Homo sapiens: one gene and its partners. The protein of the gene in region 1 purifies or fractionates together with the protein of each later gene. This does not show direct contact. Each region holds a gene or a part of one and is shown in the gene's direction. Other genes may lie near its edges.

Evidence for each region. The genes of interacting proteins can lie anywhere in the genome.
Region 2: the proteins of NPC1L1 (region 1) and ENTPD6 purify together in Homo sapiens (affinity purification with mass spectrometry; one large-scale study listed by BioGRID and IntAct). This does not show direct contact.
Region 3: the proteins of NPC1L1 (region 1) and DIPK2A purify together in Homo sapiens (affinity purification with mass spectrometry; one large-scale study listed by BioGRID and IntAct). This does not show direct contact.
Region 4: the proteins of NPC1L1 (region 1) and TMEM33 purify together in Homo sapiens (affinity purification with mass spectrometry; one large-scale study listed by BioGRID and IntAct). This does not show direct contact.

What each region holds. Positions count from the first base shown.
Region 1 is NC_000007.14:44,538,531-44,542,457, reverse strand, and holds the start of NPC1L1 (NPC1-like intracellular cholesterol transporter 1 isoform 2 precursor), read left to right. Parts: upstream 1-1,127; 5' UTR 1,128-1,198; coding exon 1,199-1,252; intron 1,253-2,115; coding exon 2,116-3,641; intron 3,642-3,927. UniProt on the Homo sapiens protein: Plays a major role in cholesterol homeostasis. Critical for the uptake of cholesterol across the plasma membrane of the intestinal enterocyte. Involved in plant sterol absorption, it transports sitosterol, although at lower rates than cholesterol.
Region 2 is NC_000020.11:25,223,212-25,226,711, forward strand, and holds part of ENTPD6 (ectonucleoside triphosphate diphosphohydrolase 6), read left to right. Parts: exon of another isoform or gene 1-878; intron 879-889; coding exon 890-946; intron 947-1,950; coding exon of another isoform or gene 1,951-1,993; coding exon 1,994-2,106; intron 2,107-2,287; coding exon 2,288-2,386; 3' UTR 2,387-3,500. UniProt on the Homo sapiens protein: Catalyzes the hydrolysis of nucleoside triphosphates and diphosphates in a calcium- or magnesium-dependent manner.
Region 3 is NC_000003.12:143,974,823-143,978,322, forward strand, and holds part of DIPK2A (divergent protein kinase domain 2A isoform a precursor), read left to right. Parts: intron 1-3,500. UniProt on the Homo sapiens protein: May play a role in cardiomyocyte proliferation through paracrine signaling and activation of the PPI3K-AKT-CDK7 signaling cascade.
Region 4 is NC_000004.12:41,945,429-41,948,928, forward strand, and holds part of TMEM33 (transmembrane protein 33), read left to right. Parts: intron 1-3,500. UniProt on the Homo sapiens protein: Acts as a regulator of the tubular endoplasmic reticulum (ER) network by modulating intracellular calcium homeostasis. Mechanistically, stimulates PKD2 calcium-dependent activity. Suppresses the RTN3/4-induced formation of the ER tubules.

The sequences.
Region 1 (3,927 bases):
TGGAGCTGTCACTCACAGGGGCAGGTCCTTGGCTGCTGACTGTCTTCCTCTCCACTATGGCTGTCTTGAGAACTTAGGGGTCAGCCTGACCCTGCCTTGGCCCCCTTCCTCTCAGCCTCTGTCTTCTCCTGCATGAGGCTGGGTGGCTCCCCTGTGAATCAGGCAGGGGTCCACAGAACACTAGAGACAGGTCCCTTCCTGCAGCTGTCTCCAGTAGGTGGCCACGCAGGAGATGTTCCCAACAAGCTGCCCTTATCTGCAGCTCAGCTTTGGTAATGGGGGCCCATTACCAAATGGGGGTAAAGGTCATGGCCCATCCTGGTGATAGTGAGAACCCAAGGTAGGCCTTGAAGATTCCTATCAGGAGGGAGCAGAAAGTGTGTACCACACCCCTGGGCCCAGGTGGAGCAGGGCTGCTGCTCAAGGCTCCCAGCCATGCTCTGTCCCTTGCTAGGGGTGACCGGTGGGACAGGCCTGGGCAAGGGACAAGAGGGAGAAGGTCGGGGGGAAGAGGGGATGAAGAGCAAAGTGAGCAAAGGAGAGTCTTCCACTATCTGGGGTCTCTGTCAACTGTCAGGCCCTAGAGTGAGCTGTTCTTTCCCTTTGCTTCCTGGAGGAGGGGACTTTTGTCACTGCGTCACTCCACCCTGCCTGCCCCTCCGTTATCAGGCTGTTAATATTAATTAACAACAGTTGCTAGGGATGACAGTGCAGAGGGTTCCTCTGAGCCCATTGCTGGCCCTGGTCCCAAGAGGGGGTAGGGCAGAGCTGGGGTCTGAGGCTGAGCCAGGGAGGGTGCGGAGGTTCCTCGGCCATGCTGAGCTCCTGAGGCCGGGTCCCAGCCAGTGCCTGGTCCCATCTGTGCCTCCAGGCCCTGGCACCAACTCCAGCAGTGTTAGGGGCTAATAGCGTGGTCTCTCCCCTAGCTGACTCAGCCCTCTGGCTTCGGTCGCTTTGGGAAGTGAGTGGAGACCCTAGCACCTGCGTGATGAGGCTCATCTAAAGCGGGGGCCTGTGGACTGGGGCCAAACAGTGGGAGTGGTGGATCATTAACCAGCAGGGCTCAGCCTCATTGGTCCCTAACCCAGTCAGGCCAGGGTTGTCATCGAAGGGGAGGAGGCTGCCTTAATGTGTGTTCAGCCCTTGGCTGTTCCTGAGGCCTGGCCTGGCTCCCCGCTGACCCCTTCCCAGACCTGGGATGGCGGAGGCCGGCCTGAGGGGCTGGCTGCTGTGGGCCCTGCTCCTGCGCTTGGTGAGTCCCAGGGCTTGGCTCCACCTCCCCTGCGGCCTCCAGTTAGGGACCCTGGGGCCAGCCGTGTACCAGGCGAGCGTTACTGGGTGACAGCAAGGGAGCCTCAGGGCCTGCGGGCTGGGCAAGTCTCTGGACACATGAGGGATGCCAGGCCCCACAGAGGAGGGGTGCAGGTGGAGGGTTTCCAGGTTACAGGCTTGAATGCACACAGGGGTGAAAGAGGCTGCTGGACTGGGGTGCTCCAAGTCCCTCCTGTCACTGGCCCTACTGTGGGGTCCAGGCCTGCAGTTGAGGGAGGTCTGAGGCAAGGAGGTGCTGGGATGGGGTTACCTGGTGAGCATCACCTAGGGAGGACTGAGCACTCTGGAGGCTGGGAGAAGATCCAGCGCTGGCACCTCTTAAGTTCCTCGCTTACTTTGTGTCTGGGAGGTGGGTGACAGCTTTTGGCCTCAAGCAGGTGGTGGTAGTGGTGGTGGGAGTCGGGGGGCCTCCTGAACAGACTCTCCATGAGAGACCCTGGCCTCTGGATGTGGTGTACAGTGTGGGGACTCAGGCTGACTTTGACGTGGGCAGAGCCCGGGACCTTGGAGTCAGCTTTGCCTCCTTACCCATCTCTGGCCTCTCCAGCATGACTTTCCTAAGCTGCAGGTCTATCAGGCCACCCCCAGGAAGAAAGGCCAGTGTTGTCACTCCAACACTGGCTGGCTGGCACATGCCTCCAGGAGGCTTCCTACTCCCCACACTCCCCGCTTCCCTGCCCCTGCTCCATGTCCTTCTTACCCTCACACCCTCCCTGGCTGCCTGCTGCCTGGATGGCACCCAGCTGTGTCAGGGCCCACGCGTGATGTTGCTGTGCTCTGCAGGCCCAGAGTGAGCCTTACACAACCATCCACCAGCCTGGCTACTGCGCCTTCTATGACGAATGTGGGAAGAACCCAGAGCTGTCTGGAAGCCTCATGACACTCTCCAACGTGTCCTGCCTGTCCAACACGCCGGCCCGCAAGATCACAGGTGATCACCTGATCCTATTACAGAAGATCTGCCCCCGCCTCTACACCGGCCCCAACACCCAAGCCTGCTGCTCCGCCAAGCAGCTGGTATCACTGGAAGCGAGTCTGTCGATCACCAAGGCCCTCCTCACCCGCTGCCCAGCCTGCTCTGACAATTTTGTGAACCTGCACTGCCACAACACGTGCAGCCCCAATCAGAGCCTCTTCATCAATGTGACCCGCGTGGCCCAGCTAGGGGCTGGACAACTCCCAGCTGTGGTGGCCTATGAGGCCTTCTACCAGCATAGCTTTGCCGAGCAGAGCTATGACTCCTGCAGCCGTGTGCGCGTCCCTGCAGCTGCCACGCTGGCTGTGGGCACCATGTGTGGCGTGTATGGCTCTGCCCTTTGCAATGCCCAGCGCTGGCTCAACTTCCAGGGAGACACAGGCAATGGTCTGGCCCCACTGGACATCACCTTCCACCTCTTGGAGCCTGGCCAGGCCGTGGGGAGTGGGATTCAGCCTCTGAATGAGGGGGTTGCACGTTGCAATGAGTCCCAAGGTGACGACGTGGCGACCTGCTCCTGCCAAGACTGTGCTGCATCCTGTCCTGCCATAGCCCGCCCCCAGGCCCTCGACTCCACCTTCTACCTGGGCCAGATGCCGGGCAGTCTGGTCCTCATCATCATCCTCTGCTCTGTCTTCGCTGTGGTCACCATCCTGCTTGTGGGATTCCGTGTGGCCCCCGCCAGGGACAAAAGCAAGATGGTGGACCCCAAGAAGGGCACCAGCCTCTCTGACAAGCTCAGCTTCTCCACCCACACCCTCCTTGGCCAGTTCTTCCAGGGCTGGGGCACGTGGGTGGCTTCGTGGCCTCTGACCATCTTGGTGCTATCTGTCATCCCGGTGGTGGCCTTGGCAGCGGGCCTGGTCTTTACAGAACTCACTACGGACCCCGTGGAGCTGTGGTCGGCCCCCAACAGCCAAGCCCGGAGTGAGAAAGCTTTCCATGACCAGCATTTCGGCCCCTTCTTCCGAACCAACCAGGTGATCCTGACGGCTCCTAACCGGTCCAGCTACAGGTATGACTCTCTGCTGCTGGGGCCCAAGAACTTCAGCGGAATCCTGGACCTGGACTTGCTGCTGGAGCTGCTAGAGCTGCAGGAGAGGCTGCGGCACCTCCAGGTATGGTCGCCCGAAGCACAGCGCAACATCTCCCTGCAGGACATCTGCTACGCCCCCCTCAATCCGGACAATACCAGTCTCTACGACTGCTGCATCAACAGCCTCCTGCAGTATTTCCAGAACAACCGCACGCTCCTGCTGCTCACAGCCAACCAGACACTGATGGGGCAGACCTCCCAAGTCGACTGGAAGGACCATTTTCTGTACTGTGCCAAGTGAGTCCATGGTGGGGCCCAAGCGAGGAGTGGGCTGGGGCTGGGGCTGGGCTGCCATGGCCTCCTGGGAACCTGGCCGGGCATACAGCTGGTCCTGAAGGACCAGAGGTAGCTATTCCTACGGCTCTGGCCTGGGGCCGCCCAGATGATTATCTCTGCCCCTCGTCCGGCCGCCATTTCCTTTGGTCAGAGTTCCTGCTCATGGCTGCAGGTTTGTGCGTGGCCATCGCTGGCCCTTCAACCCCGAGTCCACTCTGTCTTTCTGCAGATTTCTTGACATGTGGGA
Region 2 (3,500 bases), on another chromosome or scaffold:
CCTGCTGGAAGGCAGGTCCTGCCTTGCACTGGCCCACGTTGTCTCAGACTCAGCCACTCTGCCCTACCCTGCAGCCCTGGCTACAGGAGGCCTCCTGTGACCTGCAGGTGGCTGCCCTGTACCCATGGGAGGGATCAGCTCACTGAATGTGGAGTCTCTCTGACTCACCCTGCACAGCCCAGGAAGCCAGATTAGGGCGGAAAAAGGTATTCAGAGTTTGCTGAGGCTAGTGGTGGTCAGGCTGTGTGGGAACTCTGGAGGGGGTTGCAGAGTCACTATCATGGTGAGATCATCAGAATGTATGGCCTGTGGTACGGATAAGAACACTACTGTTTTAAATAAGCTGACACGGTGCCGGCTCTCTGGGCCCTGCAGCCTCCGGCGGGTCTCTGTGCTGACAAAGCTACCACTGACTGGGCCTGGGTGGAAGGTGGGTGGTCAAGGTGGAAGGCCACCAATAAACCACCCCTCAGTGTATTTTTCAAGAACTTTTTTTTTTTTTTTTTTACATTTAGGAAACTGATACCAGAATACTGTTGCTGAGCTCAGTTCTATGGCTTCAGGAAACATTTCAATTTCTCTACTTTTATTTTTCTTAACTTAAAATTTTACTCAATTTGGGGTCCTGGGTTCCTGGTGAGCTTTCTCGGGGGACACTGCAGGGTTGGGTTGTGGGGTGACCCTCTCAGCCCCCAAACCCACCCCACACCACATCACCCAGAAGCCGTCCTCAGAGCACGTGAGTGCCGCCTACAGCTGGAGGGCCTGCCTCAGAAGCCAGTCAGTGCCTTGGGGCTCTTGGGCTGGCGTTCCCCGTGCCAGCCTCACGTCTCAGTGGCATCGCCAACCTCACAGTGCTCCTGCAGACTGGGTGTTGTGTCTCCCACAGATGCGGAGAAGGGAGGCAGCCTGGTGGTGGGGGACTTCGAGATCGCAGCCAAGTACGGTGAGTGATGCTGCAGGGGCCATCTCAGCAGGGGCAGGCGCCCCGTGATGCTCGTGACGCAGGCGCTGGCCCTGACTCTCCTGGGTGTAGCCCCTCCTAAACAATGGCCACAGGCAGGGGCCTCGGCCCCAGCTGAGAAAGGACCACCGTCCTTGTCCCACCCTCATGGGGTCGTGAGGAACTGGGTCCCTCGATTCCACTTCCTCAGATGCCATTTTACTGCTACTAGGGTAACCCCAAGAGTGATTTCCCCTGGGATGTCCCAGTAAGTTCATGATTGTCACACAACCCTTAAGAAGCCAAGGCCCTACAGAATGGAGCCTGGGATGTGGGGTGGAGGGCTGTCCCCGGGGTCGCAGGTGACCAGCCCAGCAGACCCTGTGCCACACACTATGCCTCTCCACTGTCTCCTTCACGCCTGGCCCAGCAGCCAAGCCTTGGTGAACATGTCCTGCTCTTGGTTGCCCTTCCCAATGTGTGGGTCCAAAGAGCTCAAATTTGTACATCTTTCCAGAAAAAGTACTACCCTTCCCCTCCCCCAAAAGTGGCTTTTTTAAAGCTTTTGTGTCATTTTCCCATTTGTGCCCATGGACACTGGGTATCCACAACTACAGCAGGAAAAGGCTTTGAGCAGAATCCCAGGACAGCTCTTGGTGGATTTGTCCTTCCTCAAGAGCAGGAGTGGATTGTTCTGAGCTGGCTTTGGTGTTTTCTTTCCCCAGAAAGCTTAGGTTTTATGCAGCTTGACACCTGGGAGAGGTGTCCAGGGTCTTAGATGTAGAAATGTGGCTTGGGAGACATTGGCCCATGACCCTAACACCAGGCGTGCAAATCCCCTTGGAGCCCAGACCCAGTGGCAGCCGGGGTTGCCGCCCACCTGCCTGTGCTGTGCACTGGGTGCCTTCTGCGCTCAGCTGCGGCCTTGTCTGTGAATCCGGAGTGCGGAGCCAGCGGGTGCCTGTAGTGGGTGGAATTGGGGTCTGCACTTGCCCCTCCGCCCCCAGGTGGGAGTCACCTGGAGCGTGAAGGGACGTGTCTCATCCCCAGTGTGTCGGACCCTGGAGACACAGCCGCAGAGCAGCCCCTTCTCATGCATGGACCTCACCTACGTCAGCCTGCTACTCCAGGAGTTCGGCTTTCCCAGGAGCAAAGTGCTGAAGGTAAGGGTGCCCTCAGGTCACGCCCCAGCCCCTTTATGGAGTGAGGGGCCTAGAACCACTTCTCCAGTTGCTGGGGTCATGTCCCCCAGCCCATCCCTGGCTTCCAAGGAGCCACAGCCTCCTGATGCACAAGGCTTTCCTGTCTGTGTGATGGTCCCCTCTCCCTCTCTGTCTTTTCAAGCTCACTCGGAAAATTGACAATGTTGAGACCAGCTGGGCTCTGGGGGCCATTTTTCATTACATCGACTCCCTGAACAGACAGAAGAGTCCAGCCTCATAGTGGCCGAGCCATCCCTGTCCCCGTCAGCAGTGTCTGTGTGTCTGCATAAACCCTCCTGTCCTGGACGTGACTTCATCCTGAGGAGCCACAGCACAGGCCGTGCTGGCACTTTCTGCACACTGGCTCTGGGACTTGCAGAAGGCCTGGTGCTGCCCTGGCATCAGCCTCTTCCAGTCACATCTGGCCAGAGGGCTGTCTGGACCTGGGCCCTGCTCAATGCCACCTGTCTGCCTGGGCTCCAAGTGGGCAGGACCAGGACAGAACCACAGGCACACACTGAGGGGGCAGTGTGGCTCCCTGCCTGTCCCATCCCCATGCCCCGTCCGCGGGGCTGTGGCTGCTGCTGTGCATGTCCCTGCGATGGGAGTCTTGTCTCCCAGCCTGTCAGTTTCCTCCCCAGGGCAGAGCTCCCCTTCCTGCAAGAGTCTGGGAGGCGGTGCAGGCTGTCCTGGCTGCTCTGGGGAAGCCGAGGGACAGCCATAACACCCCCGGGACAGTAGGTCTGGGCGGCACCACTGGGAACTCTGGACTTGAGTGTGTTTGCCTCTTCCTTGGGTATGAATGTGTGAGTTCACCCAGAGGCCTGCTCTCCTCACACATTGTGTGGTTTGGGGTTAATGATGGAGGGAGACACCTCCTCATAGACGGCAGGTGCCCACCTTTCAGGGAGTCTCCCAGCATGGGCGGATGCCGGGCATGAGCTGCTGTAAACTATTTGTGGCTGTGCTGCTTGAGTGACGTCTCTGTCGTGTGGGTGCCAAGTGCTTGTGTAGAAACTGTGTTCTGAGCCCCCTTTTCTGGACACCAACTGTGTCCTGTGAATGTATCGCTACTGTGAGCTGTTCCCGCCTAGCCAGGGCCATGTCTTAGGTGCAGCTGTGCCACGGGTCAGCTGAGCCACAGTCCCAGAACCAAGCTCTCGGTGTCTCGGGCCACCATCCGCCCACCTCGGGCTGACCCCACCTCCTCCATGGACAGTGTGAGCCCCGGGCCGTGCATCCTGCTCAGTGTGGCGTCAGTGTCGGGGCTGAGCCCCTTGAGCTGCTTCAGTGAATGTACAGTGCCCGGCACGAGCTGAACCTCATGTGTTCCACTCCCAATAAAAGGTTGACAG
Region 3 (3,500 bases), on another chromosome or scaffold:
AAACTTTGGCATCTGATTTACACTAAGGTAAATTTGTGCTTTGTGCAGGAAGGTTTTATATTTTTTTAAGTTTGAACTTCTCATGGCATTCTCAGTTTACTTTGTAGTTGAGATAGTCAAGTGTGCGTGTATCTTGTTTTCTGTTTAACTTTTCCCTCAAACTTACTCTTTATCTGTTCTCATCTTTAGTGATGAAACAGCCTTTTTTGAAAAAGCACAATTATTTTCTTATATATGACACATAATGACACAGCTACTTTGAGTGGGTAAACACATGGGCCATAGGATAAGAATTTGTTTTTAGTATGTGATGAAACATGTCTCCACGTTTTAGAGTGAGGTTTGTAAATTACATTTTTAATTTACACAACCCAGTTCCCAGGAATAGTACTAATACTAATATATGTATTATAATTATAGCTGAGTACATACTGTGTAATATAATTTTGGGGTCTTTAGTACCAGCCAGTCATATAGGCATGTAATTTTTTTAAAACCTGATTAACAAGCAAGTAGAGGAAGAAGATATTTTTAAGTAAGAGTTTTCAGAGAGCCGCTGCTTTCTTTGTAGAATCACTTGATCTTTGGAAAAAGCTAGTGAATTTACAAGTCTGAACAATATACTTGAGGTTTGATGATTGTATAAAACCACCAAAATGAAAGGTATCTCAACATTCTGTGATCAAGTACAAAAGTTGCTGTACAGTAAGTCAAACCATGATGTTCATTACCTTTGTTAGCTAGGAAACTACATTTTTAGTATTTATACAGGTTTTTATAAAACTGTTTATAGCTGTTTACAGTAATACTGGGATATTAATTGATACAGAAAAACTCAGATTTGGCTGTCTATTGCTTCATGTATTAAAAAATATATTTTTAAGAGTACAAGTGTTTTAACAGCTTGAAGAGGAACTCACTTTTTTCCTCCAGGAGAGGGAGCTACTTGTCGAATTTTTGGACAGCTGGTGACAAACTAGATTTTTCTTATATTGTCCAAAAATTAACAACTTCAGGGAAAAAAAAGTCTTTGAACTGACTTCATCCAAGTATTCTTAACAAAACTTCCAGTATCGTAAGCATGCTTCAAAATAAGCATGTAAAAATTTCTTTTGATAAGGTGTTTAAGAACTGAAAAATACTTACGAATTTAATCCATTAAACTCACCTCTTCTGATTTGAAAAAACAGTAAAAAATTGAAGTTGCTATTATTCCTTGAAAGGAGAGGTGAAAGACATTAAGTGTCTAAGATGTTTACACACATACCTTATCTATGTAAGGCTGTAAAGATTTGTGATATAAATTTCCCCATATGAAATGGCATGAGAGTATGGCTTTCTTCTTATTGTTGGATAGTTTCACTAGTTTACAACAGTTTACCCATAGAATTATTATCTTCTAAAAAATGTTTATAAACATCAAGCAACAAGATAATGCTAGTAGTACCTTTATCTTCTACTCTGATACCCTTTCCTCGTCGTCACATTTTTACTTCACTAAGATGTGTGTATTTTAGTGCCAGGTATACTGTAATCCTATGAAAAAAAAAATGGAGGAGAGGAACTATGTTGACTTTTATATTGTGTAAATAGGAATCTTGAAGTATTCAAAAATTGAGTTGTTGAAGTAATTGGCAAGATCACAAGTTATTGTTGATAAATTTTCCATCGTATTTGTATTTAACCTATTGAATTTACAGAAAGGGAGAGTGTGTGTGTGTGTGTGTGTGTGTGAGAGAGAGAGAGAGAGAGAGAGAGAGAGATGCTGTCTGGATTTGTTGAAGTTCAGACAGAATCTCTGACTTTATAACCTGGAAGTAGTGAAGATGGTCTTGTTTGTAGGAAATGGAGAAAGCTCTTTGTTGTTTAGGGGGACGAGCTGGGAATGTTACTATTTGTGGAACTTCATTTGCCTTAAATTTTCTGAATCATGGTTTTAATAGGATTTACTTTATTTTTATAGTATATGACTATCATTAAGCTATGGTTTTTAAGCTTGCTTTTCTATTCTTATAAATGATATAATACATGCAAAGCACTTCACGTAGTATCTGGTAAATTGTAAGCATTCAATAAATGTTAGATATTGAATAAAGTAAAGGTAACTTTAACTGCCTGGTGCATTTGATCAGCTGTTTTGAAGCTCATTTGGGGTATGGATCACCTTAAAAATAATGGTGATTTTGAATATCAACCATACTTTAGTTATACTGATTTTTTTCCATTATTACTTTGATATAATTTTTTGTAGAAAACTTTCAGTGAATGTTGTTTTTGCCTTTAAAAGTAATTTATATAGGGAACAACATATTTTTTAAGTTCACTGGTGAAAATGTAGTTTTTGAAGTAAACAAAAGATTATTTAGCTAACGGTACTTTAGAAAAGTTGATAGATTTTTACTATTGGACTCACTTCCTTCTTTATAAAATGAAGCTATTGGATTAGATCCTTTTCAGCTCCAACATTCTGGGGCTTTCAAACTCTTGAGAAATTTGGTTTTTATTGTTGTTGTTGTTGTTGTTGTTTTCTTTTGAACTTTAACGAGTGGGTTTAATTAAGCTCTTCTGAAAGGGGATTGGGAGTGGGATGCTCTCTTTCAAGCCTTTCTTCCTACCCCCAAATTTTTACACACATGAAATAAAACAAAAACCAAAACCTTCCTTTAAGGGGAAATATGTGGAGTTAAGGGTAGCCAAGGATCTTGTGAGGCAATAGTGTGCAAAACGATGTTCCAGACTTTGTTTCAGGAGTTTCTTTTCAAACAACAGTTTAAGGAACCACCTACTTCTCCTTTACTGGCTGTTTCTTTAGTAACTGTCTTCCTAGATTTCGGCTTCAGAACACATTAGAGATGGTTCTTAGTAGAGCAGTTTTTAATCTAATAAATTTTGTAAGTTTTTGAACTTTTTGTGGCTTTTCATCTGAGAGTCCATTGACACTTTTGATTGCTCTTCAAGATAATCAAACAAAAATAATAAAACAATTTTGGATACCTCAAGTCCAAAAAGGGGGTGGGGACTTTTATTTTAGAAAGACCCTAGAAACAGACAATCGCCCTTAAGAAAGCATCACTTCAGAATCAGTAGAGCAAAGTCATTTGACATCCTGGACTAGTTTCTGGACATATCCATATCTTTTGACCATTTTGAATTTTGTCCTTTGTATACTTTTGTCTAGTCTTTGAACTATTCTTTATATTTCCATTGCATAGGTTAGCACATATTCTCACACATGTTGGGAAATAGAAAGCTTGTTTTTATAGGTCTTCTGGACATGGGTGTCCAGCTTCTCAGGGGATTGTCAGACTGGTTTTTATTCTGTTTTTTTGGTTTGTGGGCTCTGGCTTACTTCCTATTTTTCTGTCATTGCTGCTGACTCTTCACAGAATGCTATTTTTTTCTTTCTTCAGCTTTCACTCATTACCCATATGTTAAATTATGGCCTTATAATTTAAATCCTGCATTTTTCTAATACATTTGATGAACTTTAGTAAATGGTT
Region 4 (3,500 bases), on another chromosome or scaffold:
TGCTACCCAGATGATTGCTTTATCAATTTTTAGTTTTACAAGTAATGAGACATTACAGATAAAAGCTAAAATAGCATTTGACTATATGAATTCTTGCTGCAATTTTGTCCTCTTCCCAAAGGTGTAAGGAGTTTAATATGTGTCTATGTATGTAGTCCTTTAAAAATACTTATACAAATTTGTAGAACATATATATTATGGATGTGGAGTTTTGTTTGTTAATTTGTTTAGTTCTTATTTTACATCAAAGATGTTATTCTGGCTGGGCACAGTGGCTCATGCCTGTAATCCCAGCATTTTGGGAGGCCAAAGTGGGCAGATCACTTGAGGTCAGGAGTTCAAGACCAGCCTGACCAACATAGTGAAACCCTGTCTCTGTTAAAAATACAAAAATTAGCCAGGCATGGTGGTGCACACCTGTAATCCCAGCTACTCGGGAGGCTGAGACAGGAGAATTGTTTGAATCTGGGAGGTGGAAGTTGCAGTGAGCCCATATCACGTCACTGCACTGCAGCCTGGGCAACAGAGTGAGACTCTGTCTCACCAAAAAAAAAAAAAAAAAAGAAAAGGAAAAAAAAAAGTGTTATTCTGTACCTTTTTCCCACTTGTATGTTTTCATAACCTAATTGATTTGGCATATCCAGTTCTGTTTTTTTTTTTTTTTTAGCCGTATAACATTCCAACTTATCTCCTGATCATGGAATATGTTTCCAAATTTTCAGTTTTCCAAATATTGATGCAGTAAATATTTTTTACCTGCTTATACTTAATGCCAGTGTTTTCTTTAACATAGATACCAGAATTGATTTTGCTAGTACAAGCTAGGTGCCTTTTGTGTTTAATGGACCATGCTAAATTGTTCTTTAAAATGTCTGTATTACCTGTTTTTCATAATTTTGTTAGTTTGTAACAAATGTCCTTATTGATCATATAGTTATATTTTATAATTTTAAATGTACCTTGCCTTGATTAACTAGTAAAGTTTTCATGTACTTGACAGTTACTTCTTTCTATAGCAGTCTCTTCAAACTAAGAACAGAGTTTTATAGATTTCCTTATAAATATATATCTGTTTCATTCTTTTAAGTAGTGCTTTCTTCTGAGAACTCCAGGACTGGCTGGTGTTGCTTAAGTTGTATGGTCCCAACTAGATTTGATGCAGTTGTATTTGTAAATTAACTCTAAAACCTTGACCCTAAAATTTAATAAAAGCATCCTCTTATCCTAGAAGCTGAAAGCATATAAAAGAAAAGGGTAATGTAATCTGGGACAGCAGAAAAAGGGACAACATCAACATTCTAATATTTTTTCCATCATTTATAGGTTTTTCTTTCCACCTCTTTCTTTTGTGATCCTGATCTACACTTAGAAACTTTAATTATTAATTAGTAAGAGGAACTTTTTGCTCCCTTTTGTTATTCATTTTTCTCGGGTTTTTGTGTCACTTAATCCTGCTTTTGGGTCAGGATCACAGGTTCTGTGATTTGTTTCATGTAACTAGATGAAAGTTAAAATGGTAGATACCAGGCCGAGCACGGTGGCTCACAGCCTGTAAACCCAGCACTTTGGGAAGCCAAAGCTGGCAGAGCATGAGGTCAAGAGATCGAGACCATCCTGGCCAATGTGGTGAAACCCCGTCTCTACTAAAAATACAAAAATTAGCTGGGCCTGGTGGTGTGTGCCTGTAGTCCCAGCTACTCGGGAGGCTGAGGCAGGAGAATCGCTTGAACCCTGGAGGCAGAGGTTGCAGTGAGCCGAGATCGTGCCACTGCGCTCCAGCCTGGCGACAGACCAAGACTCCCTCTCAAAAAAAAAAAAAAAGATAGATACCGAGACTAGTTTTTTTGTATGGGTATAATTGATGTCTATATCCTGAAACCTCCAGATTCTGTTTAGTAAGCAAAATAATTTCTTATGCTCCTCTTAAATCAGATTAAAATAATTTTAATGAAATTCTGAGATGCCATGCAAACTTAGACAAAAACTTCACTTTGGAACTATAGTGAATTTTTTGTTAGGAGCACCAGGTTTTGACTGCGTTGGTACATTAATTCAATTGTGCTCCTTAAATGTTTAATTTAAACATTTATTTGTACAAACTTACCATCTTAATTTTTAAGATTACTGTAAAAAAGATGAGAATTTACCAGAAATGTTTAAATAGAGAAATAATTTTGTTTGAAAAATTAAAATCAGCTTATAAAGTGGTACTTAATTCCTATTAGGAAAAGCTGTTAATGCCTTAAGTAGGTAGTTTGAATATGACCTAAACAATAAAATTAAGAACAGTCTTACATTACTGCTATTCTTAATATGCTACCCTTTCTGGTATACACACAGTCTAATATTAGGAGGCTTTATCAAGTTACATTTGTGCCAGTAATGCTTCAAGCTCTGTATTTAAAAATTGATGCATTGTCTGAGTTTATCTTACACATGCGTTGCACATGTGTGCAAAGACAGGTAAAAGGATCATTGTGGCTTTTCTTCTAATTGACTGGAGCCACCCAAATATTCATTAGTACGGAGTTTGTTACATAATAGTCCAAGCATTAGATGGTATATTTGAAGCTGTAAAAAAGATTGCGGTAATTTATGTGTTGTGATATGGGATAATCACCAAGATATAATAAGTTAAACTTAGTTGTGTAGGGTGTTCTCCATTTATATTTAGTGGGGTGTATGTGTGTAAGGACATAGACGTTTCTGTCTCAGTTTTTTGGGAATGATAAACCATCTCTGTCCTAGAGTTGTTAAACAGATTTAGTGAATTATAAAGTGAGCACTATCAATGTTAGTCATTATATACACTTGTATATATACATTTCTGGAAGGACATATTCGAGATTGTGGTATAAGTTTGAGGAAGGGGCTAACTTGGATGATGGGAAACTTGTTTTTTAAGTGAATATTTTCTATTTATATTTTCTATGTTGTGTCTCTTACATTTTCACTTTAAAAAGATAAAAATTTGTCAAATTATTAGGGAAAATGGATGTTGCATTTGTTTAGTGGTAAGTTCGTAATCGTGTAAATTTTTTTTAATGAAAATGATACAATTTAGAAGAAAAGGCTAAAAAACCTAATAAAACACATTTGGCATCTTAATATATTTCTTCCAATTTAAAAAAATACAATTGTAATAATATGTGTAGTTTTATATTCTGCTTTTTTCAGAGTTGCTATGTAATTTTCATAACCAAGATTCTAGGTAGTTGCATATTAAATCCATTAAATAACCATAATATAAGTTGTTCAATTCTACTTCCTTACAGTTCACATTAGGTTGTTGCCACATTTTGTTTGTAGTTATTTCAGTGAATGTCTTAATTCAGATAGTTTTTCTTAGGGAAGAATTCCAGACCTGGTATTTCATAAACATATATATAATTCTTGGGATATTGTAATTGTGTTTTTTAACCAAGAACAATAATTAGTATAGGCTGTTTAGATTTACTGATGAGCCAGTGTAATTTTTTTGGTGGAGGGGAGTGTTTGTT